Linked DNA regions of Homo sapiens. The protein of the gene in region 1 interacts with the protein of each later gene in a pairwise test. Each region holds a gene or a part of one and is shown in the gene's direction. Other genes may lie near its edges.

Region 1 (3,500 bases):
TTCAAATCTGACATCTGGTCTCTTGGCTGTCTACTATATGAGGTAGGTAATGTTGATAAATTCCAAATATTGATGCAGTTTTACTTAGTATATTTCCTCTATCCTTATAGTATATACTTACTTTTTTCTGGATGTTTAAGAATCACCTTTTTAATTGTGAAGAATTTTCGTTGGGTTAATAACTTTGTATAATGGAATTTAATAACTATACATTCCTACACATCTAATATATTTTTAAATTGTGTTCTTTTGATGAGAAGTTTATTTTTAAAGCATTAACTTTTATGTTAATATAACGCCTTTCTCTATATCTTGCATTTGTAAAAATATACGTTTGAACATCTGTAAATCTTGATCCATGCATTACAGGAGTGGCATAATGGATTGGATTTAATATATGAAAGTATAGTAAATATTTTTATCAATATTTTATTTCACTTTTACACAGGTGTAATTTAGCATTAAGGATAGTATGCAAACAGATAGTTCTTCTAGGTTATCAATTTAGTTTCCATGAGTAACAATTTGTATTGGTAAAGCTCAGTGAAATACTCTCTCTTTTGTTCTACTGGTGATCATTTATCAAAGGAAGATGGAATCATGTAGGTAGGTCCTCTAGAAATGTTGCACTGTAATAATTTGGGTGGATAAAAGAAAGCATGTTAGTAACACATTTTACATCTGTGTTGGTATAAAAGTATCTCAAGCTAGTGACTTCTGTAATTTTGTTTTTTTAATTGAATGATAATTTTCCTAGGAATATAGGCTTCGAGTCAAAGCTGTTAATTAAAAATTAGTCTATATCTAAGTAGGTTTTAATAAAGTGAGGAAATGTAATACATGGAAGCATTTTCATATCCCTGTGTAGGAATCATTTTCATATCTCTGTGTATATGAGAGAAGTCTAAAGAGGATAAATAGAAACCAATGCATTTCCTACTATATATATTTCCTGTCTCTTGTCCTCCAGAATTAAATGAAATATATGATGAAATCATCTATTTTAATTGTACCACCATTACTTGGAAGTAGAGCATTAGGAGGTGTTTTTTGACTCTTTAAAAATGTATGTCATGATCTTTTATTATTTTATTCATTGCAGATTCAAATTTCCTTAATTTAAGGAACCTGAAATTATTTGTTTTGTCCTTCCTACTAAAGTGACTAACAACTACTTAAAATGAAAGGATTTTTAAATATTCTTAAATAAACTCATACTTTGGATAATTTTTGTTATGAAAAATTATGAGTCAGTAATGTAACAAAACATGTTTTTATATGTGCACGAGATTACAAGAAATTACGCTCACTGTGTTATATTTTGTTAATAATTTGGTACAATCCTAAAAAGAACTGGATTGTTTATATTGTTACTATAATGTTTAAAAGTTAGTCACTCTGTACATTTAAAATATTTTATATTTGTTTAGTTAACCTTAGATTCCTTTAGGCCATAGTCTAATATTATCAAAGCAACATATTCTCTTCAAATCCCTAAAAGTAAACAGCAAATTGGTTTCCAATAACTAGATTAAATTTAGCAATAAAAAAGAAAAAGTTCTGTTGAGGTAGTAAGTGGTTTTTGAGAGGAAGTTTGCATAATTCTTTTAGATTTAGCATACTCATGTCAAAACTGAAATAATTTATCACATTTTGAATTTGCCTTTGAGAGACGGTGTCCCATTTTTGTATGGACTTAAAATGCCACAAAAATAAAAATAACATCTTTGGACATTTCTACATCCATGAGTTATATGTATTGTGGATGATTTTGAGTTAAAGTATTATCATGCTAATGTTAGTTTTCATCTCAACGCATTTTCTTGATTTCTCCATGCAAATCTTTTAGAAGAACTAGAATTTTTCTAAAGCTTTAATTTAAATTTATGTTCTATTTCCTTTCAGTTGTGTTTCAATGTACTGTTAATAGAAATAGCTAACAGTTTGGCTTTTAAAAATTGGTCATAACATCACGTATTTTGTATTGTACCCACTAAAAAATTACTATTAACAATGAAGACGTAGGAAGCCTTTTTTGAAAATGTATTTTAAACTCAGAAAATTAGACTTTCAAATATTCCTGAAACCTCAAAAAAAAAAAAAAACTAGCAGTACAGTTTTAATTGATATGCAACAAAGTAGACTTTACTAATTAAAATCAAGATGCTGTGCTTTTGCTACACGGACCTTTACATGGAAAAGTAGGTTTTACACATTTCCTTTATTGTTCAGCGCAGCAATTGCATCCTTACAGGGTTGTAGGTTGGTGGCTTACAGTTCAAAAAAAAAGAGAGCTGCCACCAGCCCCGAAGACAGACAGTGGGCTTTCGTCCCTCCGACACCCCCAGAATACTAATCAGGAAAGTCAGACCCTGGAGGTCAGGGAGTAAGTCAATCATTCTAGCGATCGTCTCAGTGTGGAGGATCAAATTAGCCTGAAAAATTCAGCTGCTGGGAGGAGAGGGCGAGCAGCTGTCAGGGGCAGCATCGAGATGCACTAATGAACCAGATGAATAGTGCAAAAGCTTGAAAATAAAAACAGGACAGTTGACATTTTTCATCTGTCAAAGCAGGAGATGCATGAAAATATACTATTCCTGTTTAACTCCTTAGGGGACATTCAGATTTTTTTTTTTTTTAACACTCTGCAGTACTGAGAAAAAGGACTATAATGAACGCCTAGAATATGATAATGAATATATGTACATTTACTTAAGGTTTTGCAAACACGGAGAGACTATAGTTTATATATACAGTGTATTTTTAAGGTAAGATCTTAAAGTGTCCTTGCATTTAAAACAAAAACCACTATTATTATTATTATTATTATTATTATTATTATTGTGGTTCTTTTAGAAATTTCCTCTCAGAGTGTTTTATATGATTAGGGGCATTCAGATTGTTTTTAACTTTTTTCTCGTCATGTGAAACAACTCTTCCTAAGGTACTTCTATATAGTTGTGTGCACGTTTTATGTAAAACATAGGCAAGATAAAAATGTGTTGAGCTACTTTCCAGTTTTGATTTCCAATCCCATCCCCTTCTCATCAAGGCTCTGAAGGAGTTAAAGCTCTGTCTGGAGCACAGAAGACAGATGAGAGCCATTTTCAGCTTGTCCTGTCCCCACTGACGCTCACTGAGTAGCACAGCATGGACTAGCGTGTTTCACACACACTCTGCCTGTCTGGGGAATGTACACATTGTCCTTCCAAAATCAAACTTATTAGCACATGTAGAAAAGGGTGACTGACTTTGGGGCAGCCTGGCACTCCGTGTTGTATTCTTGCTGCTGTGGTTCAAAGATTTAGAAGGTTTTGAACAGGATGCGAACATTTTAAATTGAATTTTTAGTTTGTAACACTGCTTACCACAGTACTTGCTTGCACTTTAAATGTCAAGTTAGAACCTTGTCTTAAAATAAATTTAAATTCGATAATGTCTTTTTTAAAGTTGTTCATCCTTTGGGTCGTGTTTTTCTGCATAAAAATCTCATTTGGAAG
Region 2 (3,500 bases), on another chromosome or scaffold:
TTTTATTTTTTGGATTATTCATTGCTAGTGTACAGAAAGACAATTGATTTTTGTGTCTTGATTTTGTATCTTGCAACTTTGCTGAACTCATTTGTTTTTTGTTTTTGTTGAAGCATTTCCACAGTTGATGTATTAATTCAAATAGTAAAAACTATTCCTAGTAAAAACTAATCCTAAGTGGATTCCTTAGGATTTTCTTTATATAAGATCATGCCTTGAGCATTTTTAACCCTACTCCCCCGGCTGTTGTAGGAAGAGTGCTGGCCCTGGGGAAGCCCCTTCCTCACCCAGGCTTCACACATTTGACCCTGGCTCTCTCTCAGGAGGACCCCTCGCTGGAAAGGCATTTTAAGGGCCACCGAGATGCAGTTACCTGTGTGGACTTCAGTATCAACACAAAGCAGCTGGGTAAGAAGAGGCACCCTGTCTAGGTGCTAGGTTATGAGCTGAACAGGCCAAGTTTTTACCTCGGAGGGGTGGTGGGTGGGAAGCAGAGCACAAGGACTGCACAGCTTTGTCTAGACCTGCTTCTAGTCTTGCTTCTGCTTGCCAGCTCTTTGGGCACTGGGCTTCATGAGCTTCATTTTACATGCAGAGCCTGAGGGTCAGAGAGGTTAGGGGCCTTGCTAAGGCCACAGAGCTTTTGAGGGTGGGACTGGGATCTGGGTCTTTTCTGCACACCCTAGCCACCTTTTGGGTCTGTCTTTTGGTGTGGGCCCTAAACAGTGACTCCTTTTCCTTGAAGCTTTACTGATTCTGTTGCCCACAGTAATAAGGCACACCTTGTTGAAGAGCCTTGTCAGTGAGAAGGCTGTTGAGCAGAGATGGGCACCCCCCTCGACCCCACTGCTCTTATGCTGCAGCTGACTGTCCCCCTTCCTTGGTTGCATGAGGTTTCGTACACAGCTTTTATGACTGCGCTTTCTGGTTCCTGCAGAGGAGGCTTGCCCCTTCATCCTGTCATCAAGACCCTCTGATGTGTAAAGGTTAAGAGGGAACTGAAGTGATTTTTGATCAGTTTTGGGGACCTCCTTTAGGCTTCATACTGAGTTGGGCCCTCTCAATGGGAGGGGCTGGCTTCCCAGCTGGGGAGGACTTGCTCTCTGGTGCCCTCAGGATGTGTCTGGGGGGAGACCCTGGGCCCCATGGGAATGAGTTTTCCCAGAGCTCTGGATTGCAGTCCAAGGCTAGCATGGGAAGGGCCTCGGTCTTATTCCCATGTGGGTGTGCTCCTTGGAGAACTCTGGGCCACAGGCTCTCCACCTCCAGACCATACCTCGAGATGTGCTCTGCTCCATGGGAGACTTCTCACGGTCTGTTTGTGGATGCCAGGGAAGATGGAGCTGGGCCAGTTGCTCCCCCTGCCTCTCCAATGTCTTGGTGGAGGCTTGAAGCCTGTTAGAGCTGTAGGTCATAGCATCACCCACTGTCCTCAGCCAGTGGCTCCATGGACTCATGCCTCATGGTCTGGCACATGAAGCCGCAGTCACGCGCCTACCGCTTCACTGGCCACAAGGATGCCGTCACCTGTGTGAACTTCTCTCCTTCGGGACACCTGCTTGCTTCCGGCTCCCGAGACAAGACTGTCCGCATCTGGGTACCCAATGTGTGAGTCGTACACTTTGAGGAGGCTTGTTGGAGTCTGGGGCCCTGGTGCCAGAGCCATCCCCACCCAGGTCCCCTAGCTTGGCTCTGGACTGGTCACAGTGGGACTTCTACTCTGCTTTGGAAGAGGTGCCATCAGAGGCTGGGGCTGCAGTTGGAGCCCTCCCCTCAGGGTTGGAAGAGGAGTTCTGGGCTTACCCAATCTATCCCTAAAGAAATGCCACCTGATGCTGTGTTCATGTGGGTGGGGCCTAGAGATGGTGCTCTGTTCATATAGGAGAGGCTCTGGCTTTCCCTTGTGGAGACTGGGGTACTCGGGCTTGACTGACTTTGGGAGGGGTGCTTGAGGAGTAGGAGAGCTTTGATGTGCTTGTGGGCTCTCATGTCACTGTTATGGGTTTCCTTACTCTTGGATGCCTGTCCTTGTAGCAAAGGTGAGTCCACTGTGTTTCGTGCACACACAGCCACAGTGAGGAGTGTCCACTTCTGCAGTGATGGCCAGTCCTTCGTGACAGCCTCTGACGACAAGACAGTCAAAGTGTGGGCAACTCATCGCCAGAAATTCCTGTTCTCCCTGAGCCAGCATATCAACTGGGTCCGCTGTGCCAAGTGAGCATTGTTCTGTCTGGAGACCCTTGGAGGAACCCTGGGGGTTGGGGGCTGGCCCAGGGGCTGCTAGGTACCAACTTATGACCTCGGGCAAGTTACTTAGGCATTGTTTAAGCTTCCTCAGCCTCGGTTTCCTTATCTGTAAAATGGAACAATAATAGCTCCTGCATTGTAAGTTGTCGAGAAGCTTCATGGAGCTGATGCATGACATGTAAGTTAGTCCATAGTCAGCCATGATGACCCTCTGACATCTGTGTTGGCAAAGCACAAACTGGGTCAACAGGGGCCATTTATTATCAAAAACAATTAGGTACTTTCAGTACTACCATTACACATTTTCTTTTTGTTCCTTAAGACAGTTCTGCAAGCTAGGTGCATTTCCATTTTGCAGATGAGGAAATGGGGGCTCAGAACAGTAGTATCTTGTCCCAGAGCACACGGTGGGTCTGTGGCAGAGCTGGAGTTTGAACCCAACTCTCTCTGACAGTAAGGCTTGCCTACTTTCCTCTGGGATGTTCTCAGGGGATGATTTTGCTCCAGAGCTCCCAGATGGGGGCGCAGGCTTCGGAGATGGGGGGCTTAGCCTGGAGGCTAGCCTTCCTGCTGGCCAGGGAGCCAGTGCTGTGCAGACAGCGGGCCAGGTAACCCAAAGGACCTTTCAAGGTCCAAGAATTGCAGACAGATAGTCCTACTTCTAGCTTATTTCATTCCTTTCAACAGAGCTTCCCCATGGGTCAAATATCTTTGCTTCAGAGGAAGGGGTTGGGGTGCCAGGTGACATTAGGAAACCACATGAGTCAGAAGTTGGGGACTATTGAGCTGTGTTCTTCTGGGGACCCCATACAAGTTACTGTTCTCCAGGGCACCCCCATTCCTTTGTCCTGGGAGACCCCTGATGGCTCTTAGAGGCTTTATGACTAGGGTCCTGAGATCAGGAGGGGCCAGGCCAGCAAACTGGGGTGTCAAGTCCATACTGGGCCTTTGGTGGCAGTCCCCAGGACCTCATGCCTTTTGTTGGCAGATTGTGTCTTGCTGACCCGCACTTGAGTCAAATGTAGACTCGGAGGACCTGGTCCCAGAGTAATGACACTGATGGTGAGCTTTTGGCCACCTTTATGCAAATGTTGCCGGCAGGCAGTCGGCTGCATGTTGCCATGTGCTGTGCGTCAGGGGCAGTGCTGGGGCTTTATGTGCATGAGGCTGCTCTGTGCTCACTCGTGAGGCAGGCACCTTTTTTTTTTTCTTTTCTTTTTGTTTATTTATGTTTGGTTTTCCTCTAAGTCAGG
Region 3 (3,500 bases), about 19 Mb from region 1:
GCAACAGTTCAAATCCTAACTCTGTATTACTTTAGGCTTAAATGTAAACTTTTAAACTTATATTCTTACCTTACTTAAACTCTTTAGATATTAGTTTTCTCATCTGTAACAGGGATAATAATGCCTATTGATATGTTAACTAAGAAGATTAAATGATCATCTGGTATATTAGTAAGTACCCAATAAATTCATAATTATAATAGGAAATCACAACAGAAGGGTAAAGTATAAAATACATATGATCGACTCAGTGAATATCGAAAAGGTAATTGAAAAATTTTTTGGCTATTCCTAAATATTTTTCTTTTTTCATTAAAAACGTAAAAATTTTTATTGCTGTATTATATACATTAAGTATATAAACTGTGTGAAGTGTACAACTCAGTAATTTTCCATAGGTATATACCTGTCCAAACTTCAGTCAGATAAAGTTCTGCAGTGTTTGTTTTAAAATATGTTTATGAAAGAAATAAGTGTTTTAATAATAAAGAATATGTTTCTAAAACCAACAGCCAACATTAGATGTGCTGCTGGAATACAATAGAGATGGTTCCATTTAATTCAAAAGCAAAACAAAACTGCACAATAATTCTGTCTATTTACCATGCCCTGAAAGACAGATCCCTATTTGCCAACATGTTCACTGCTGGCTCATTGATGGGGAAAAAGAAAATTGAAAGTACCTTTTACTGTCTTATCAGTTTATCACTGCCCAAGTAACCTGAGCAGAAAGCCCTGTATATGTATCAAACAACTGAATATCTATTAAATAGGCAGATAAACTTCACAAGACATTTAAGGAAATGTTAGTTTGGAGGAAGGAGATTAAGCTAAGAAACCAGAACAGATGGCTACTATGGAGTTAGAACTAATGGATGAAATAGATACAAACTTCAATAAAAATGTAATGTGAACTTTTACAGAAATAAAACTAGAGGAAAAAAATACTGTAACCAATTTTTAAAAATAATAATTTTCCATTTAAAAATGTAATAGATGAATTAAAAACTAGAATAGTCACTACTGAAATATAAATATGTTAGGAAGGCAAATAAAGGAAATATCCATAAACACATGTGAATAGAAATCATGAGTAATAAGATTAATAATATGGAGGACATACCCAGAGGACTTGTTATGTGAATAATAGTTACTGCAGAATTCTGACTGGGAGTGGGGAAGAGATAGAATAATAATAAAGAAATACCCTAGAAGAAAACTTCTAAACTGAAGAAAGAGTATGGCTTAGAATAGAAAGGATTATCTGAGTCCTATATAGAATTTCCTTTAACACCTACTTCTTAGATATTATCTGGTGAACTTCCAAGAATACAGGAAAAATAATCTCATAAGATTCTATTCTGGACAGAAAATAAAAATAGTTATTTGCCAAGGAAATGAATGCCCTTTCTGCTCAACACAGGAACCCAAAAGACACAAAAACAATAATTACTAATGATTCAAGACCACAGATAAGAATTCTATCAAAGATTCATTTGGGGATTGGGATGAAAGAAAGACATTTTCAGACATGTAAAGACTCCTAGTTATGTCATCTATGTACCCTACCTGACGAAATGTACTCAAGAAAGTACTTGCCGTAATCAAGTAAAAATTAAATTGGAACAAAGATCTCAAGATAGAGGAAGAAGAGCAAAAGAAATAATAGAGACAACAATGAGCAATTCTACAATAATTTTCATTTAATTAAAAATTAAATAAGCATTATGTTACTGTGATTTACCTTATATTTAATTAAGACAAATTAATCTAGAAGAAGTAAAACAAATTAAGCTGGAAGAATGCGATTGGTACTTTAATGTCCTTTCTAGATATCTCCTTAGGCAAGTTCAAAAGTTCACTGTACATTTTCAGTCTTCCAAGTGATCATAGGCAATAGTCTTGCTATAATAATTGTCCCACTCTCACATAATAGAGGTTCTTTTTCCAGCTTCTAATATCAATTTTTTCACCACTCTTCTGACCCACATGTATGGTCTCTCAATGACATGTGCATCTTCCTCACCTTCTCACGCATCCCCCAGTCCCAAAGCCAATACCATAATGTTTCAGGTTTTTGCCGTGGCCATCAACCATTCTATCAGTTTTATTTTAAGCTTTTATAGTCAAATTAGTAAATTTATTCATCTGACTTTAGCAATCTGAGTTGTTCTTGGAACAGTCTTTCCCAACCTAAGATTATATTTATTTATAATATTTATAATTATTTATAATTTATTTATAATATTTAAAAAGTTTTGTTATATTTTTCCTTCAGTCTATGTGCAGTTGTGTTTATGTGCATGTATTGTGTGAGATAGAGGCCTAACTTTTTCTATAGAATACAGTTGTCTCAACAGCAGTTATTAAATAGTCCATCCTTTTCTTACTAGTTTTAAATGTTGAATGATAAGCAAATCAAAGGCATAAAAATTGCAAAGGAAGAAGTAAAATTGTCTTTATTTACTGACAGCATAATTATATGTGTAAAAAACTCTATACCACATACAAAAAAGGATTTAGAAGTAATAAATGAACTTAACAAGTTCGCAGGATGCAAGGGCAGTATACAGTAGTCTTTACATAACAGCAATGGACAATTATAATTTAAGACTTTGGCAATACCATTTTTAATAGCATCAAAATGCATGTCATTTGACTCAGAACTGTCACTTTTTCTATTGGCCTCATAAAAATGCTCTTATGTGTACATAAGTTGTGTGTAAGAGTATTTTATATACAGGATTATGTACAAGGGCGTTCATTAAAGTATTATTCCTAATAGGGAAAAAATAAAAATAAAAACTGTAAATAACTTGTATCTATTTGCAACTACTATGGCTAAATAAAGACAAGCATATGAGGGAAAATAAATAGCAGTTTAAAAGAGTGAAACATTTTATACATAATGACATGAACAAAATCTCTGAGACAAAATAAGGTATAAGAAAAGCCCAGATTATAGAAAATATATAATACATTTAGTGTTTTTTATGTAAAACAAATGTAAAAATACATAGAGATACAAAACTGGAATTAGATAGATCTGGAATTACACATAATAAGTGGTTAAATTTTAAAAATTGAAAGAAAGTGAGGTTGAAATAGAATCTTTTTTCTCTATGTTTTTCTGTATTATTTAACATTTTATATTGAGCATCGGTTAATCAGGTACTTATTTGTGAAATAAACAGTAGATAAATGGAGAAAGTTTGTCCTAGGGCAAAAATTTTGTTTCGAAAACAAAATTAAACATAGAAAATAAGTGGCCGTGGAAGATTTAACTAGTACAAAACTTGTCCTCTGACCGTGAAGGACTAGAAGACTCAACAAAATATATGAACAATTATTTTTAGGTATTGATACAGTAGGCAATGCAAGATTTGATCTCAAGGAGAAAGATCAGCAAATGAGATTAACAAGACAATTACCCCAGCTTTCTTTTGGAGGCAATCTCTGAACAAAATTCAAACTCTCAATAGTGTAACATTCATAGCGTC
Region 4 (3,756 bases), on another chromosome or scaffold:
GGGCCCCTTTTCCAAGCTCCTGCAGCCGGACATGTCACACCATTATGAATCGTGGTTCAGGCCGACTCACCCAGGCGCGGAGGATGGCTCGTGGTGGGACCTTCATCCGGGCACCAGCTGGATGGACCTCCCCCACACTCAGGGCGCGCTGACCTCACCTGGCCACCCGGGGGCGCTTCAGGCGGGCTTGGGGGGCTACGTCGGAGACCACCAGCTTTGTGCCCCGCCACCCCACCCGCATGCGCACCACCTCCTTCCAGCTGCCGGAGGGCAGCATCTCCTAGGGCCGCCCGACGGGGCTAAGGCCTTGGAAGTAGCCGCCCCGGAGTCTCAAGGGCTGGATTCCAGCCTGGACGGGGCGGCGCGTCCCAAAGGCTCCCGGCGGTCGGTGCCCCGCAGCTCAGGCCAGACCGTCTGTCGCTGCCCCAACTGTCTGGAGGCGGAGCGACTGGGGGCTCCATGTGGGCCCGATGGGGGCAAGAAGAAGCATTTGCACAACTGCCACATCCCGGGCTGCGGGAAAGCCTACGCCAAGACGTCGCACCTGAAGGCGCACCTGCGCTGGCACAGCGGCGACCGTCCCTTCGTGTGCAACTGGCTCTTCTGCGGCAAGCGCTTCACGCGCTCGGACGAGCTGCAGCGCCACCTCCAGACCCACACCGGCACCAAGAAGTTCCCCTGTGCAGTCTGCAGCCGCGTCTTCATGCGCAGCGACCACCTGGCCAAGCACATGAAAACCCACGAGGGCGCCAAGGAGGAGGCGGCTGGGGCGGCCTCGGGAGAGGGCAAGGCCGGCGGCGCAGTGGAGCCCCCCGGGGGCAAAGGCAAACGCGAGGCCGAGGGCAGCGTGGCTCCCTCCAACTGAGCTCCTCAGTGCCGCCTCCCTGCGGGTATCCCGGGGGGCACTGGATGCGAGCCCCCAGGTCTGACGTCCTTGGGGGTGGCTTGAGGAAGAGGGGAAGGTGCGTATTTATTCAGGGAGGAGGAAAAGTGGTGCAGGGACAGGGAGATGGGGCGCTAGGGGTTCTTAGTCTCTGGGGCTACTAGGCAGGATGAATTTGACTGGGTCGGTAGGAGCTGCGCAATGCCCCTCTGTTCTCCCCTGCCTCACAGTTTCCCTCGCCCCTGGGCTGGGGGGTTGGGGTGGGACACCCGTACCGCGGCTGGCTGGCGGGGACAGGCTAGAGGAGACAGCAAGTCCCAGTCCCCGGAGCAGAGAGAAGTGGGGCCGGCCCGGGGCGCTGGTGGTGGCTGTCTGGACACGTCCTTAGCGCCTGGGAACCAGGACATAAAAGCGCCTCCGGAGCCGCCCTGCGGCGGGGTCCCTTTCATCCCACTTAAAGTGCTTCTGCCCCTAGGGTTTCCGGAGGGAGAGCCGAGATGGGATGGGGGAGCCTGGGGGTCCCCCTTGGCAGGGGTGTCTCTTTCTGGTTTGGAGGGTTGTTGCTGTAAAAATAACTCCTTTGATGAGCTTCCTTATTAACCCTTTCAGACCCAGTCTGTTGGAGCCATGAAGGAAGAGGGAAAGAGGGCTGCCATTCCTGACAGCCTCCCAGCCAGGGCTGGCGATAAAGGACCGAGATAGATGGAGGGGGCGAGTAGGGAAGTCCTCTTCTAAAATGAGAGATAGGGATTTGGTGGGGTATGGAAGGAACTAACCCCTTCCCTCTCCACCTCTGATTCAGCCCTTAATTCTTGGTCTATGATAAATAAAGTTCAGTAGTCTCACATTCCCCATCTATTACCCTAGGTGTGTTTTCAAGGCAGCCAGCGGTAGAATCCATGTAGTTCCCACCAGTTGCCTTCCCCTCAGGGATGGAAGGAAGAGGGTTTCTTGGGCTGGTTGAGGGCAGATTGGGGGTGTCTCATCAGAGGGACCTCCACTGGTTCCCACTCAGAGTGGAGGCCTGCAGCCTACCTGACCATCTCTTTAGCTGTCACCAAGAAAATAAACCCCACTGTCTCTCTAGCTTGGCCCTTGTCTTTCCCTTGCCCCTGCCATAGCATGTTCATTAGGGGATTCCTTCCTCCCCCTCATCTCACAGGGGAAGGGAGAGGAAAGAGTTGTTCTCCCACTGGAAGGGGTTCTGCCTTCTGAGGTGACATCCAGGAAGCTGTCCCCATTCCCTTCTCCTTTAGATGCTAGAAACACATTTTGATTCTGATCATGGGGTGGGGGAGAGAGGAAAGGAGGGAGGGGAGAAGCCCAGCAGAAGCTGAGCCAGGCAGAGGGGAAAGAAGCTGATATGAGGAAGGGTCTGACAGGCCACAGCCCTTGCAGCCGGAGGGCTTTCCCACACTCAAGAGAGGGGCCTTACAGTCCCTCTGACACCCCTCCCCCTTCCCCTCGCTCCCTTTCTTCACCCGGAGCCCTCTGCAGAGATTAGCTGTGTATTGATTTTTAAGTTATAAGCAAAGGGTATTTTATTTAATATTAGGTTATGTGTGTGCATGTTGTGTGTACCTGTGTGCATGTATGTGTGTTTCTCTACTGAGCCTGGGGTCTCTAGCCAGGGAGACCCCATCTTATTCACCATGTCCAAGATCCTGGGATCTGGGCCCAGCATCTCTTCCTCCTTTGTAGATGCTGGAGCCCAGCCAAGGTCTGGGAGCTATATGGGAAGTGGGGGCTGGGATCTGGGTGGGAATATGTGTTTGTATACAAAGGGGCCCTCCTTAAAAGGGACAGGATGACCTTCCCGAGGAACTCATTGGCCTGGGGTAGTTTAAGAAGTAATGTTCTTTCTTTCTTTCTCTTTTCCCTACCTCCTGCTAACCCAACCAGAGATCCCCTTCCTTGCTGAGAGGGTTGGGGGCAGGAGGAGATTTGGCAGTGCCTGCAGGTTGCCTGGCCAGGTGGAGAGGGGGAAAGAGGAAGGGCACCGTGGGTGTAAGATGCCTTTCTCCTCCACCCATCGAAACCAGCCACCCCTTCCCTGTGCCACCAAGACAGCCTTTTCCAGTGGCCATCCTAAGGGGAACTCCCAAATGGGTGTTGCTGGTGGACACAGATGCTCCCCCCAATGGAAGCCCCAAGCTCTGAGGTATGCGGGTAGAGGCTTTGGATAGGTTTTCTTCTGCTCCCCTCTTTTATAGATCTAGGCTGCTTGGCTGCCTGTCTTTCTAGGCAGTCCCCCTAGAGGAAAAATGTAGGAATTTATTTTTTCTTTAACTGCTGTGAACTCACTTTGAGGGGGTAGGAGGAGGGAGAAACAGCCTGTGTTTTTTATGCAATAAAGTCATCAACTACATCATGCTTCCTTTGTGTTCCAGCTCTGTTTCCTTTTTGACTCAGTGTCCCTCAGCAGTGAGGACCAGGTCTGGGCCACAGAGTGGGGTGGATGCTTCCCAGTGATCCTGCAGCCCCTTGGAAAGCCTCATGTCTATTGAGTTGGGTTGGAGCTGGGGTCTGATCCTGCCCCAGAGGTGGCTGGTACAGAAGGAGGGAGGTTCTTCCTCTGGGTTGGTACCCGGGCTGTCCCTCCCTGGTCTCATACCTGTGGTTATGAGAAGTTTCTAGATATCTCTTTCCTCTTCCACATACAAGCCCCTTCTTTCCCTTCCCCTGCTAAGAACACTGGTTCCCTCTTTCCCAGGCACTGGCTCCCTCACTCCATCCCCATAGAGGGTGCATGTCAGTCCATCCCCTGCCTGTGACTGAGCTGGGGGTGATTGGCAGTGATTACTTCACCCAGGATGATCCTTATCAGGGACAAGGCGATGAAAGGCAGCCGAGCTATCTGATGGGCTCCTGCC
Region 5 (4,073 bases), about 89 Mb from region 1:
TTTCCATGAAAAAAATACAGGGGTGAGTAGGGGGCTGTGGGAACCCTATACTTTCCACTCAGCTTTGCCGTGACTCTCAAACTGCTCTAAAATTAAAGCATTTTAAAATGCAGAGGGATGCTGGCTTCTGGAGATAAGAAGGTAGGAGTATGATAGGTGGCAGTGTCCATGGCATGTACAACACGTATAGAAAGATGGTTTGCTAAGTCTGGAAATCATGTAGGACCTGTAGTATGTGACTAGCACCTGCTGTGAGCTGGCCACTTTCCTATAGATTGTATCATTTTATCCTCAACACAATCATGGCATCATCCCTTGTTTCATAGACTGGGACTTGAGACTCCGAGTCGGCCATTTGCCCAGAGTCCCAGCTGGTGAGTGAGTGGTACAGCCAGAAGTCACACGCAGGTCTCTGAGCTCGCCTCCCTCCACCACTGCTGCCTCTCCCTTTATTTGTACTTCATCTAATAGGCAAGGCAGCCATTGACAGCTCTCAAAGGGGGAAGTGCTGGCCTGACCTAAAAATAGCTTACATTTATCAAGCACTTAGTCGGCTACACTCTGCTAAGCACTTTACAGAGATTACCTCTTTAATCCTCACAACGACCCTATGGTTATAATTATCTCCATTTTACAGATGAGGAAACAGACTGAAGAGAGACTGTGAGGTGTTGTGAGTCACACAGCTAGTTGGTGACAGAGCCCCAAGTGGCACCTGGGCAGCCAGTGCGAGTGCAGTCTCCACCTACCACTGCGCTGTGCCCGCTGCCCCCGGGGAGCGGGGGAGGATGGGACAGGCCCTGTAAAGGTCGAGTTGATAAGACTTTACAATTCATTGAATGTGGGAGCAGAGGGAGAAAGAGCAGTTCAGGCGTTGCTGTGAGTCAGCTAATCCTGGGCCCCTTCTTTGGGACCTGAATGCCCCACGGGATGAACTGGAGGTCAGGAGCAGAGATGTCACTCAACCCTCCCTACAGAAATTAGAGGTCCCTTTTGGATGGTGTGTTCAAGCTCTCCCTCCCTGGTGCTGTGGGGGGTGTCATCTCTCTCCCGAGATAACAGGGACACCTCAGTCCTCCTGGGGCTATTCTGGGCTGCTGTCTGATCCTCCTCTCTCCCCCAACCCCTACTTCAGCCTTTCTGCTGGGCGTAGCTGAGTGGGGAGGGCCAGCCCAGTTACGTAACCCTGTGGCTGGGACCCGGGAGGCCAGCCTGGGAGCAGGTGCTCAGCCCCTCCCTCATCACCAGCAGTGAAAATCTAGAGCTGGAGCTCAGCCTCTGGGAAGGCCCAGCATGGAGGCAGCCACAGCTCCGGAGGTGGCCGCAGGATCCAAGCTGAAGGTGAAAGAAGCCAGCCCAGCGGATGCTGAACCACCCCAGGCTTCACCTGGACAGGGGGCTGGCAGCCCCACTCCCCAGCTCCTGCCCCCTATAGAAGGTGACCCATGGCAGGTGGGGAGGGTGGGGAGGCCGGGTGGTGGGAGTTGGGGAAGACATCGCCACCTTCCTGAACGGCGCCTCAGGTTTTCTGCAGAGCTAAAGACTCTATAGGATTGGTGATTAGGCTGGAGATCATTCGTGAGAGCCCCCATCCCCTGTCCTTGATGGAGTCTAACTTGCTGCTCAAATGTCCCTGCTAAGTTTTTGTGTTTTAGCTGAGAAGTCAGTGATGGTGTTGGTGGCACTTTACAGTGACTAAAAATGATCTGTTTATATTTTTACCTTTTAAAAAATTGTCATAGGGACTGGGAAGACCTGATATACTAATGGCCAGTCAGGAAGGGACTGAGGGGTAAGAGATAGTGACTGTCTGCTGAAGGAACAGGGAAATAAAATGCTATGGCAATGGGGAGGCTAAGAGTGGGGCAGCACAGTGACACTCGGCCTCCTGCTGGGCAGTACCACGGGGTCAGGACCTCCTCCAATCCCCCACTGCTCCCATAGGAGATCCTGACCCCTCAGAGTCTGAGCTCCACGGAAGTGGAGCTCTCCTGGGAGAAGCATTCAATTTCCCCTTCACGATGGTCTCTGTGTGCCTCTCAGCAAAGAGGCGTTCCCAAGTGAGGAATTCCAACCCCGAGCTTCCTGCCGCCCATCCCTGAATGCCCTGGCTGAGGCCTCTGTAGCTAACCACTTCGTGGCGCTCACCTGAAAGTCTTAAGAGGATGAAAAGACCACAATCAAGAAACACGTGGACTCCTAGGGCAGGAAGAGGCAGGGGAAAAGATATACTAGACTTGGAGGCAAAGCTCTAGGCTCAATTCCTAGTGCCGCCTCTAACAGCCCTGTGACCTTGGACAAGTCACTGGACTGCTCAGTTTCCATTTTCACTCTGTAAAATGGTGATTAATAACATCTACCTATCAGGGTAGTTGAAAGGATTGCTGAGATGATCCAGGGTGCCTTGGAAGAGGCCAAACTAAGATGTAAATAAATGATCAAATATTTCCAAGTGAGAGGTGAAGGCTGCGTTCTACCTCCATAGGGTTGTGCAGCAGACTCTGTCTGCCTCTTATCCTCATGGGAGAGGCCAGGTTTCCAGAAACTATTTGAATGTCAAGGGCAGAGAGCTGGCCAAGTTTGTCCCGTTGAAGATGAAGGGAGCAAAAGTTAGTGTAAATATATTAAGCTGGGGTGATGGAGGCAGAAAACCAGTTTCTTCCCTTAAAAGGCCCAGAGAATAAGTGACAGGCAGCAGGAGAATGAGAGCCAGGACTGCTGACGCCTCAGCTCTCTCTACTGGTCTTCCCAAAAGCACAAGGGAGAGTGCTCATCTCCCCCATGCTTCTCCCCTCTGGCTGCAGCCAGCTCCTGACAGCCCCCAGTCACGGGCCCGCAAATGCAGCCCAAAGCCTCTCGTGTGCAGCAGCTCTGTACACTGCAGGCCTCAGGGCCACTAGCACCCAGTGGCTCAACCCAGTGGTATCCCAGAAGTCACTGGCAATAAGAACACCTTTGAATACTTTGCAAAATATATGTGCATCTGTTAACTACTTGGAACAAAGAAGTCATGAGTTCAAATCTTAGCTCTGTTCTGTGGCCCTAGGCAAGTCAATCCACTCCCATTTTCTCATCTGTAAATTGAGGAGTTGAACCAAATCAGGGTCTTAACCTTTTGGTGGATATGGACCCCTAGGAAAATCTAATGCCAGCTGTGGACTCTTGCCCCTGGAAAAATACACAAAAAAGTTCAGAGAGCCAACAGAGCCCCAAACCCCCACCAAAGATCCTTCAGGGTGCAATGCATGGGCCTGGACTAGATGACCCCTAAGCCCCCTGAGAGCTCCAAAGCCTTTCTTCCTCCTAACTCCTCTTCCTTACAGAGAGCTCTGGGACTGAGTATCACAGGAAGCATGTGAAAACATGGGAACTAGAGCAGGCATCAGAAATAGAAATTAATTTGCAAGATCAAAACCAACTGCAAATGGCCAACAATGAGCTTTTAGTTTGGCAAGCCTGCTACATGGCTAAATAAGCAGGAGTAGGTGGCCAGCATTGGTAAACAGTTCTATGTCTGTCCTCAGCACTACACTGAGTACTGTGTCCTGGAGACAAAGCTTGGCAGGGGCCAGAGAAGAGCTTCCAAAACAGGGAGAGGCTGGGGAACAAGCTGCATCCCTCCCATGGACAATGTGACACTCGGCCTCCTGCTGGGCAGTACCACGGGGTCAGGACCTCCTCCAATCCCCCACTGCTCCCATAGGAGATCCTGACCCCTCAGAGTCTGAGCTCCACGGAAGTGGAGCTCTCCTGGAAGAAGCATTCAATTTCCCCTTCACGATGGTCTCTGTGTGCCTCTCAGCAAAGAGGCGTTCCCTGGGACCCTGAGGTGGAGGAGAAAGAGCCCATCTGCTGACTTCAGCATCATCGCTCCAACTGACTCTGTGTTCTCTTTCAATCTGAACTGTTCTGTGTCTTCCAGGCATGGGAAACTGAATCTCATGCCTAGGAGTGACCTTTCTTCCCTCCTTCCTTCCGTCCTTCCTTTCCTCCTCCTTCCTTCCACAAATATTTAGGTTGTGCCTATGATGTGCCAGGCGCTCTTCTAGGTGCCAGAATTACAGAAATGAACA
Region 6 (3,500 bases), on another chromosome or scaffold:
TAAGCTGTGTAAGCGTTTTAGAGCCCTTGTGTTTTCAAGATTTTAGACGGTATGGGAGTTGAAACATGAGTTAATAAAGAACTGGAAGCCACGAGGGTCCTGTGTTAAGTAGAGCCACAGGGGCTAGACATCAGTGCTCTGCAGAGGGCTGGGTGGGAGGGGAGGCAGGACCTCCTATCCTGTGTTAAGTAGAGTCACAGGGGCTAGACATCAGTGCTCTGCAGAGGGCTGGGTGGGAGGGGAGGCAGGACCTCTTATCCTGTGTTAAGTAGAGCCACAGGGGCTAGACATCAGTGCTCTGCAGAGGGCTGGGTGGGAGGGGAGGCAGGACCTCCTATCTTGTGTTAAGTAGAGTCACAGGGGCTAGACATCAGTGCTCTGCAGAGGGCTGGGTGGGAGGGGAGGCAGGACCTCCTATCCCAGGGATGTCTTCAGTCTTCAGGACAGCTTGCTTGCTTCTGAGTTGTCTGCCTCTTGTTTAGGCTTCATAGAGCCAAGTTATGGGTGCTGGCTCCAGGCAGCCCCTAAAAGTGGGTGAGCTTTCTGCTGGCCTTGCCTCCTCAGATCCCATTAAGAAAGCCAGAGATCATGGGCGGCGAGTGTGAGCACAGCAGTCAGCTAGGGGTTCAGGCGTCGGTACTGAGGTCTGGCTAGGACGGTGGACCTGACATGGGCCTTGCTGCACTTTGGATTTAGACAAACCAAATCCACAGTGCAGCAAGGGCCCATGTCAGCTTTGAAACCCTGGGCTAACACAGAGCTTCAGGCAAAAGGGAAGCTTGGTCACCTGGAAGTATTGTTGGTGACCTGGGCTCTGCTTGGATTCAATCACATGGCAGGGTGTGTTTCTGTGGTTCTGTGTGGAGGTGGGGGGTGAACAGGCTGCAGGTGTGGGAGAGGAGCAGTTGGAAGTGAAGTGGGAATTGCAGAGCATCTGATGAACAGAGGGCTGGGCAGCCTCGTGTCTGGAATGCACACCCACGTGCATGTGTGCTGTGTGCTGGACTTGGCCACTGTCACTGGTGTGTGGTGATAGCTCTGCAGTCCCACTCGCAGGGGAGCTAGTGGCTGGAGCCCTGCAGCCCCTGGCAAAGCAGAGGGCCTGCATACTTGTGGGAAGAGCTTGCATTCTTGGAGTCAGACAGGCTAGAGTTGGAGTCCTGGCTTTAAGCTGCTTGCCAGATGACTTGAGGCAAAGTTAACCTCTCTGAGCCTCAGTTTCCTCATCTGGAAAATGGGATGACGGTGGCTCTAACCCGAGGATTATTGTGATCAATAAAGATAGGCTGAGGCCACAGTAGACTTCAGGAAGTACTCATTCCCTTCTCTTACTTTCTCTCTTCTGTCTCTTTTGTCCCTCTGACTTCTTGGACGTTAGCCAGAGAGCTACCGCTGAGGCTGTGGATATTCTCAGGGGCTGTTTCCTCTTCCTCCCTGCCTTCCCTTTCTGCCAGCAGCCACTCTTGCTCTTTCTTCCCAGTGCTGTCTGGGGAGGTAGGCTGGGGAAGCTTCAGGAGAGGTTGTTGGATGTTTGTGGCTGCTGGCTGCTCCCTGCCTAAGGCCCCTCTGGGCAGCCCGGTGTTGGCTTTTGCCAACATGAGCTGGCATGAGCCACTGCACCCAGGCCTTGGGTCCCACTTGAGACAGTGAATGAGCCAGTTGGTATAGGGGGCTTCCCTGTGACAAGCTGCTGGCTGTTAGAGCATTTTCCAGACCCCATAATGTCCCCTCCTGTTAATAAAGGAGGAAGCAGCTGGGTATCCCCACCCTAGATCTTAGCTGAGCATTGACTCCCAGTAAATTTTTGCACAATTCCCATAGGGGATCTTTGATTCACACCTCTGGAGAGGGCATAGTTGGCAGCTGACCTCCAGACTCCCAGCTCAAGGGAGATGGTGTCTTCCCTGGGCGACCTCTCCTCCTGTGCCCTGAGCTTTTACTGAGTACACGTGGAGCCTTTAGCACCTTCTTAAGGAGAGGGGTTTTCAGACTGGGGAAAACCATGCACCGCTCCTCAGTGTTTCATATTTTCAGCTTAAGTTTGAAGGGACTACTGACTGCCATTTGTGTGGCCCACCTGCCACGTGCCAGGCCCTGTGCTAAGCGTTGGTCTGGCAGGAAGAAGTTGAAATACTTGGTTCAGAAAGGGATGGTCCTGAGCTGCGGGAAGGGCCCAGGTGCAGCTGGACTTCCTGGAACCAGGGACACAAATCCTCCTCCATCTGCTCTCCACTTCTGATCCTGGCTTCTCTCAGCGGGAATGTTGGCTTCATTTTCAGATGGGCCTTCTTCAGATGTTTCCTAGAAACATGATCCCCTAGGGCTCTCATCTCCTGTCTCACAGTTGCACTAATATTCTGCCGCTTTTTCTGCTCTCCCCACTCTTTCTCCCCACACCCAATTCAGAAAATCTCAGGGAAGGCCCTGATTGGCCCAGTTAGGTCCTATGCCGAACTCTGAGACCAGGGAGCCAAGGGGCCTTGCTGGACCTGCATACTGGCTGGAGGGTGGAGTTGGGAAGAGCAGGGTGGATAAAATGCCAGGTGTCCACCACAGGTAGGTGGATCTCCCGGTTCCAGATGGGAAAACCGAGGTGACTAATTCTGGGTAGTCTGTTAGTGAGTGGCTGCCCTACAATGGGAGTCAGGACTGGGAGGGGGAGCCCGTCCTTTTAACCCCTCGGCCACAGTGCTCTCTGCTGGCTGGAAGGCACTGTGCTAAGGATGTGGGTAGAAAAGATGAACAGCGTGGGCTTCTAGCCTTCCAAGACCACAGAGGCCAAACAACAGGCACACAGAAACTTAAAAGAGCAAGTGGAAAAAAACTATGCAGGTAATATGGGCAAGGCGCTCTGGGAGTTCAGGAAGTGAAGAGCTCGCTCTGGGTAGGGGTGGGATTGGGGTCTGCTGATGCCTTCTGGTGGAGATAAGGAAGTGTGTTCTGGCTCTCAAGAAGAGTTTACATTAGGGCTTAAGCTGGACAAGGAGGGACTGATATGATGTTTAGTGAAAAATCTGATTAAACCTTTTTCTGAATGGCCCTCAGGGATCTAGAATTGGGTTGACCCTAGTCCTTGCTTGATGACATGCTCTTGTTCACATGGGCCCTGCTTTTGTCTTGTGTATTTTCTTTCTTTATTTTTTTTGGAGACAGGATCTCGCTCTGTCACCCAGGCTAGAGTGCATTGGTGTGATCATAGCTCACTGCAGCCTCGAACCCCTGGGCTCAAGCATTCCTCCCTGCTCTGCCTCCCAAGTAGCTGGGACTATAGGCACATGCTATCACACCCAACTAATTTTTCAATTTTTATGGAGACGGGTCTTGCTATGTTGCCTAGGCTGCTTTCCAACTCCTGGCTTCAAGCGATCCTTCGGCCTCGGCCTTCCAAAGTGTTGGGATTACGGGCGTGAGCCACTGCATTTGACTATCTTGTCTATTTCAAATAATGTGTTTAAGTCTGTTTTAATGCACCTTCAACAGCAGTTTGCTTGAATATAGTT
Region 7 (3,500 bases), on another chromosome or scaffold:
CAAACCTAATAGTACTCAGTGAATATGACACATATATTAGTGTCCCTGAGGACTACTTCAAGTTTTGGGTTACAGGTAGATAGTAAGCAAAGTTAGATCCATGGTGACAGAAATAGCAAAAGGACTGGAGTAAAGGGGATTTACTGGTGTTCCCTATCTTAATGTTGTCTGTATGTTTTACTGTGTTCATCTCTCAGGGCAACCTGTGAAGAAATCAGTGAGCCAGGTCACCAAATCAGTTGACTTCCACTTCCGCACAGATGAGCGAATCAAACAACATCCTAAGAACCAGGAGGAATATAAGGAAGTGAACTTTACATCTGAACTACGAAAGCATCCTTCATCTCCTGTAAGTTGATGGACTAAATGAACATTTCTGTTACTAATATTCATTTAGGATTTTACGTGTAGCATTTGTGGTCACTGTTTATAATAGTATAATTGAGAAAAAAAACCTTGTGTCTATAAAGTTGTGTAAAATATAACAGATCTTTTTTTTTTTTTGAGATGGAGTTTCACTTTTGTCGCCCAGGCTGGAGTGCAATGGCACGATTTCGGCTCACTGTAACCTCCGCCTCCCGGGTTCAAGTAATTCTCCTGCCTCAGCCTCCCAAGTAGCTGAGATTACAGGCGCCTGCCACCACTCCCAGCTAATTTTTGTATTTTGTAGAGACAGGGTATCCCCATGTTAGCCAGGCTGGTCTCAAACTCCTGACCTCAGGCGATCCACCTGCCTCAGCCTCCCAAAGTGCTGGGATTACAAGTGTGAGCCATCATGCCTGGCCAATATAACAGATCTTATAGGAAAAATAGGGTTGGGGCAGACCAGTCAAATCTCATGCAGTTTTGTTACCAGAGCACCAACAAAATCAGTAATAATCGTTAAGTAAAAATGCTAGTACTAATAATCTCCACTTGCATTTGTAGTCAGTATCATCATTTTTTGAAATTAGTTATTTGCATTCTTAAACCCTGAGGTTATGCTTCTTTCTTTGAGATACAGGTCCTTGAAGGGTTTTGCTTCCAATTAGAGACCAGTTTTATCAAAATTACTGGTCCAAGGAATAGGAATAGGCTTCTTCATCAGTCTCTTTAGGGGATGTATGGAGAGATTCCACTGATTCAGGAAGCTGCCTGACCTGATGCATACCCAGAGGCCCAATCAATTTTTTTTTTTAAAGTGGAGTTGAGGGTGAGATTTCTTTGCAGTGCTTTTTGTCTTCAATTCTAAGATAGCTTACTCTGGATTCCTTCAAAACATTGACATGGTTGGGGGGAAATTACCTATGTACTATTCCAGAACATAAGATTTGTTAAGTGCTAGATCCTTTCTTCCATTTTTAATTTTTTTTAATGAGAACAGATTAGTTATAACCCTTGCTCAAGGACTGACAAACTTCAGAATAATAATCTTGGTTTTACACAGGCCTTTTTTATTGATCCTCTGTGCCGAATATGTGGCTTATGGTAGATGTGAGCTCTTCCGTGACATTTCATTTGGGGAACAACTTTTCTCTTTACAGGCCCGAGTGACTAAGGGATGTACCATTGTTAAGCCTTTCAACCTGTCCCAAGGAAAGAAAAGAACATTTGATGAAACAGTTTCTACATATGTGCCCCTTGCACAGCAAGTTGAAGACTTCCATAAACGAACCCCTAACAGATATCATTTGAGGAGCAAGAAGGATGATATTAGTAAGTTTCCTACCAGTATCACAGTTGGATGGAACCTCTCCTACATTCCCTCTGCTTACATCTTAGGCACAGATTTGTCTTTAGCTGAAATCCTAGTTTTTCAATTAAAGTATGGCGTGTGACTATGCAGACAACAAATGTATCCTTCAGAATTTTTCAAACCACCCAGCTGTCTGTCTTATACCCATCAACCGTCTTGATCCTCCTCATCAATAATTGGCCAAGGGGAATGAGTTAAGGTAACCTGAGATGTCATTACACATCCTTAACGGACATTTTTTTGCCATGTGTCAAAGTGTCACATTGCATTTAGTTACCTATAGAAAATGAAGGCATTTCATTCATTCAAGGCTATGTGCTTTTTATTCAGTGGTCCACCAAAATTTTTACTACTACTAACCAGGCACACTGTGTTAGGTATATAGAGGTAAATAAAATAGACTTGGTGCTACTCAACATCAGGTTTCTAATTCAAGTTTCAAAACTCGACATCAAGTTTCAAAAGCCTTTACCATAATTTGTAGTGACCTATTTATCTCTGTCATTAGAGATACACTAATTAGTTCTTTGCATTCTTAAACTGTCATTAGATAAACAGGTCACTACAAATTATGGCAGGGGATTTTGAGGAGGAGGGAGGTGCAAGAGTCAAAGGAGGTGGGAGATAGGGAGAGCATGTCTGAATGTTGAGAAGTCTCGTCAGAGATAAAGAAGCTGAAGGTACGAGAGAGAGGAGATAACTAATGGATTAAGTCCCTGAGCAGGCAGGTATTGGAGGGATACTTAGCACAGGTGGAGTGAGTGTTCTTTAAAAGGAGGATGGAAGAGTGGGAGGAATGGGTGCAAATACTGGGGGAGTTTGTAGATTTGGTGGTGAGCAGATGAGCGGATTCTAATGTAATAGTTTCTATCTTTATGGAAATAATTTCTGCAAGAAGGAAGATGAAATCTGAAGGGTGGAGGTGGTATTAAATAGTTGTTGGGAGTATAGGGATAGTATTCTGGATAAAGCAGAATGTGGTTGTTTTACCTTTGAGGATCTCTAAATTTTTTATATCCTTGCATAGGCATTTTTTTTGAGACAGAGTCTCGTTCTGGGTGTCATCACCCAGGCTGGAGTGCAGTGGCGCGATCTCGACTCACTGCAACGTCCACCTCTTGGGTGCAAGAGATTCTCGTGCCTCAGCTTCCCGAGTAGCTGGGATTACAGGTGTGTGCCACCATGCCCAGCTACTTTTTGGATTTTAAGTAGAGACCAAGTTTTGCTCTGTTGGCCAGGCTGGTCTTGAACTCCTGGCCTCAAGTGATCCGCCCGCCTCAACCTCCCAAAGTGCTGTGATTACAGGTGTGAGCCACTGCGCCTGGCCAAGTACAGCATTTTTTAATATTATTATTATGTTCTAGTGGCCAAAATGATTTTGTTAGATTTTATAGTATGAAAATAATGAAATATTCTTCTTTATTCTAATGGAAATTTAAATATTAAGCATAACTTTTCAAATAATATATGACTCAGAGTCTGATATGTCCTGCTTTCAGAATACTAGTCCTGGCAAAAGGAAAGAGAAATTATATTATGCAATTTTTATTTAAAACTTTGTACAGTTACAGCTAAATAATGGTTACATGTATCTTTGAAACATGGCTTATTTCTAAAATAGATTTGGTTTTGATCTACCACTGTTATGTGACAAGACCTAAATTGAAAGATTCATTCTATATTAGTTATGAAAATTGACAAGGTTTCACTGGCCAGGTAAATTAATATTTTCAATGAGTGGTGGTGATGTCTTAATATTGATGCT

What was found.
Region 2: the proteins of NEK7 (region 1) and POC1A interact in binary tests that used the Homo sapiens proteins (3 or more experiments, as listed by UniProt).
Region 3: the proteins of NEK7 (region 1) and SPATA17 interact in binary tests that used the Homo sapiens proteins (3 or more experiments, as listed by UniProt).
Region 4: the proteins of NEK7 (region 1) and SP6 interact in binary tests that used the Homo sapiens proteins (3 or more experiments, as listed by UniProt).
Region 5: the proteins of NEK7 (region 1) and MYBPHL interact in binary tests that used the Homo sapiens proteins (3 or more experiments, as listed by UniProt).
Region 6: the proteins of NEK7 (region 1) and PSAT1 interact in binary tests that used the Homo sapiens proteins (3 or more experiments, as listed by UniProt).
Region 7: the proteins of NEK7 (region 1) and TPX2 interact in binary tests that used the Homo sapiens proteins (3 or more experiments, as listed by UniProt).

What each region holds. Positions count from the first base shown.
Region 1 is NC_000001.11:198,292,998-198,296,497, forward strand, and holds part of NEK7 (serine/threonine-protein kinase Nek7), read left to right. Parts: coding exon 1-42; intron 43-3,500. UniProt on the Homo sapiens protein: Protein kinase which plays an important role in mitotic cell cycle progression. Required for microtubule nucleation activity of the centrosome, robust mitotic spindle formation and cytokinesis.
Region 2 is NC_000003.12:52,147,924-52,151,423, reverse strand, and holds part of POC1A (POC1 centriolar protein homolog A), read left to right. Parts: intron 1-252; exon of another isoform or gene 253-323; coding exon 324-408; intron 409-1,436; coding exon 1,437-1,608; intron 1,609-2,034; coding exon 2,035-2,214; intron 2,215-3,500.
Region 3 is NC_000001.11:217,637,844-217,641,343, forward strand, and holds part of SPATA17 (spermatogenesis-associated protein 17), read left to right. Parts: intron 1-3,500.
Region 4 is NC_000017.11:47,844,408-47,848,163, reverse strand, and holds the end of SP6 (transcription factor Sp6), read left to right. Parts: coding exon 1-865; 3' UTR 866-3,256; downstream 3,257-3,756. UniProt on the Homo sapiens protein: Promotes cell proliferation. Plays a role in tooth germ growth. Plays a role in the control of enamel mineralization. Binds the AMBN promoter.
Region 5 is NC_000001.11:109,304,212-109,308,284, reverse strand, and holds the start of MYBPHL (myosin-binding protein H-like), read left to right. Parts: upstream 1-1,273; 5' UTR 1,274-1,293; coding exon 1,294-1,438; intron 1,439-4,073. UniProt on the Homo sapiens protein: Myosin-binding protein which plays a role in cardiac function. Seems to regulate conduction in the atria and ventricular conduction systems.
Region 6 is NC_000009.12:78,314,125-78,317,624, forward strand, and holds part of PSAT1 (phosphoserine aminotransferase), read left to right. Parts: intron 1-3,500. UniProt on the Homo sapiens protein: Involved in L-serine biosynthesis via the phosphorylated pathway, a three-step pathway converting the glycolytic intermediate 3-phospho-D-glycerate into L-serine.
Region 7 is NC_000020.11:31,777,290-31,780,789, forward strand, and holds part of TPX2 (targeting protein for Xklp2), read left to right. Parts: intron 1-197; coding exon 198-349; intron 350-1,523; coding exon 1,524-1,695; intron 1,696-3,500. UniProt on the Homo sapiens protein: Spindle assembly factor required for normal assembly of mitotic spindles. Required for normal assembly of microtubules during apoptosis. Required for chromatin and/or kinetochore dependent microtubule nucleation.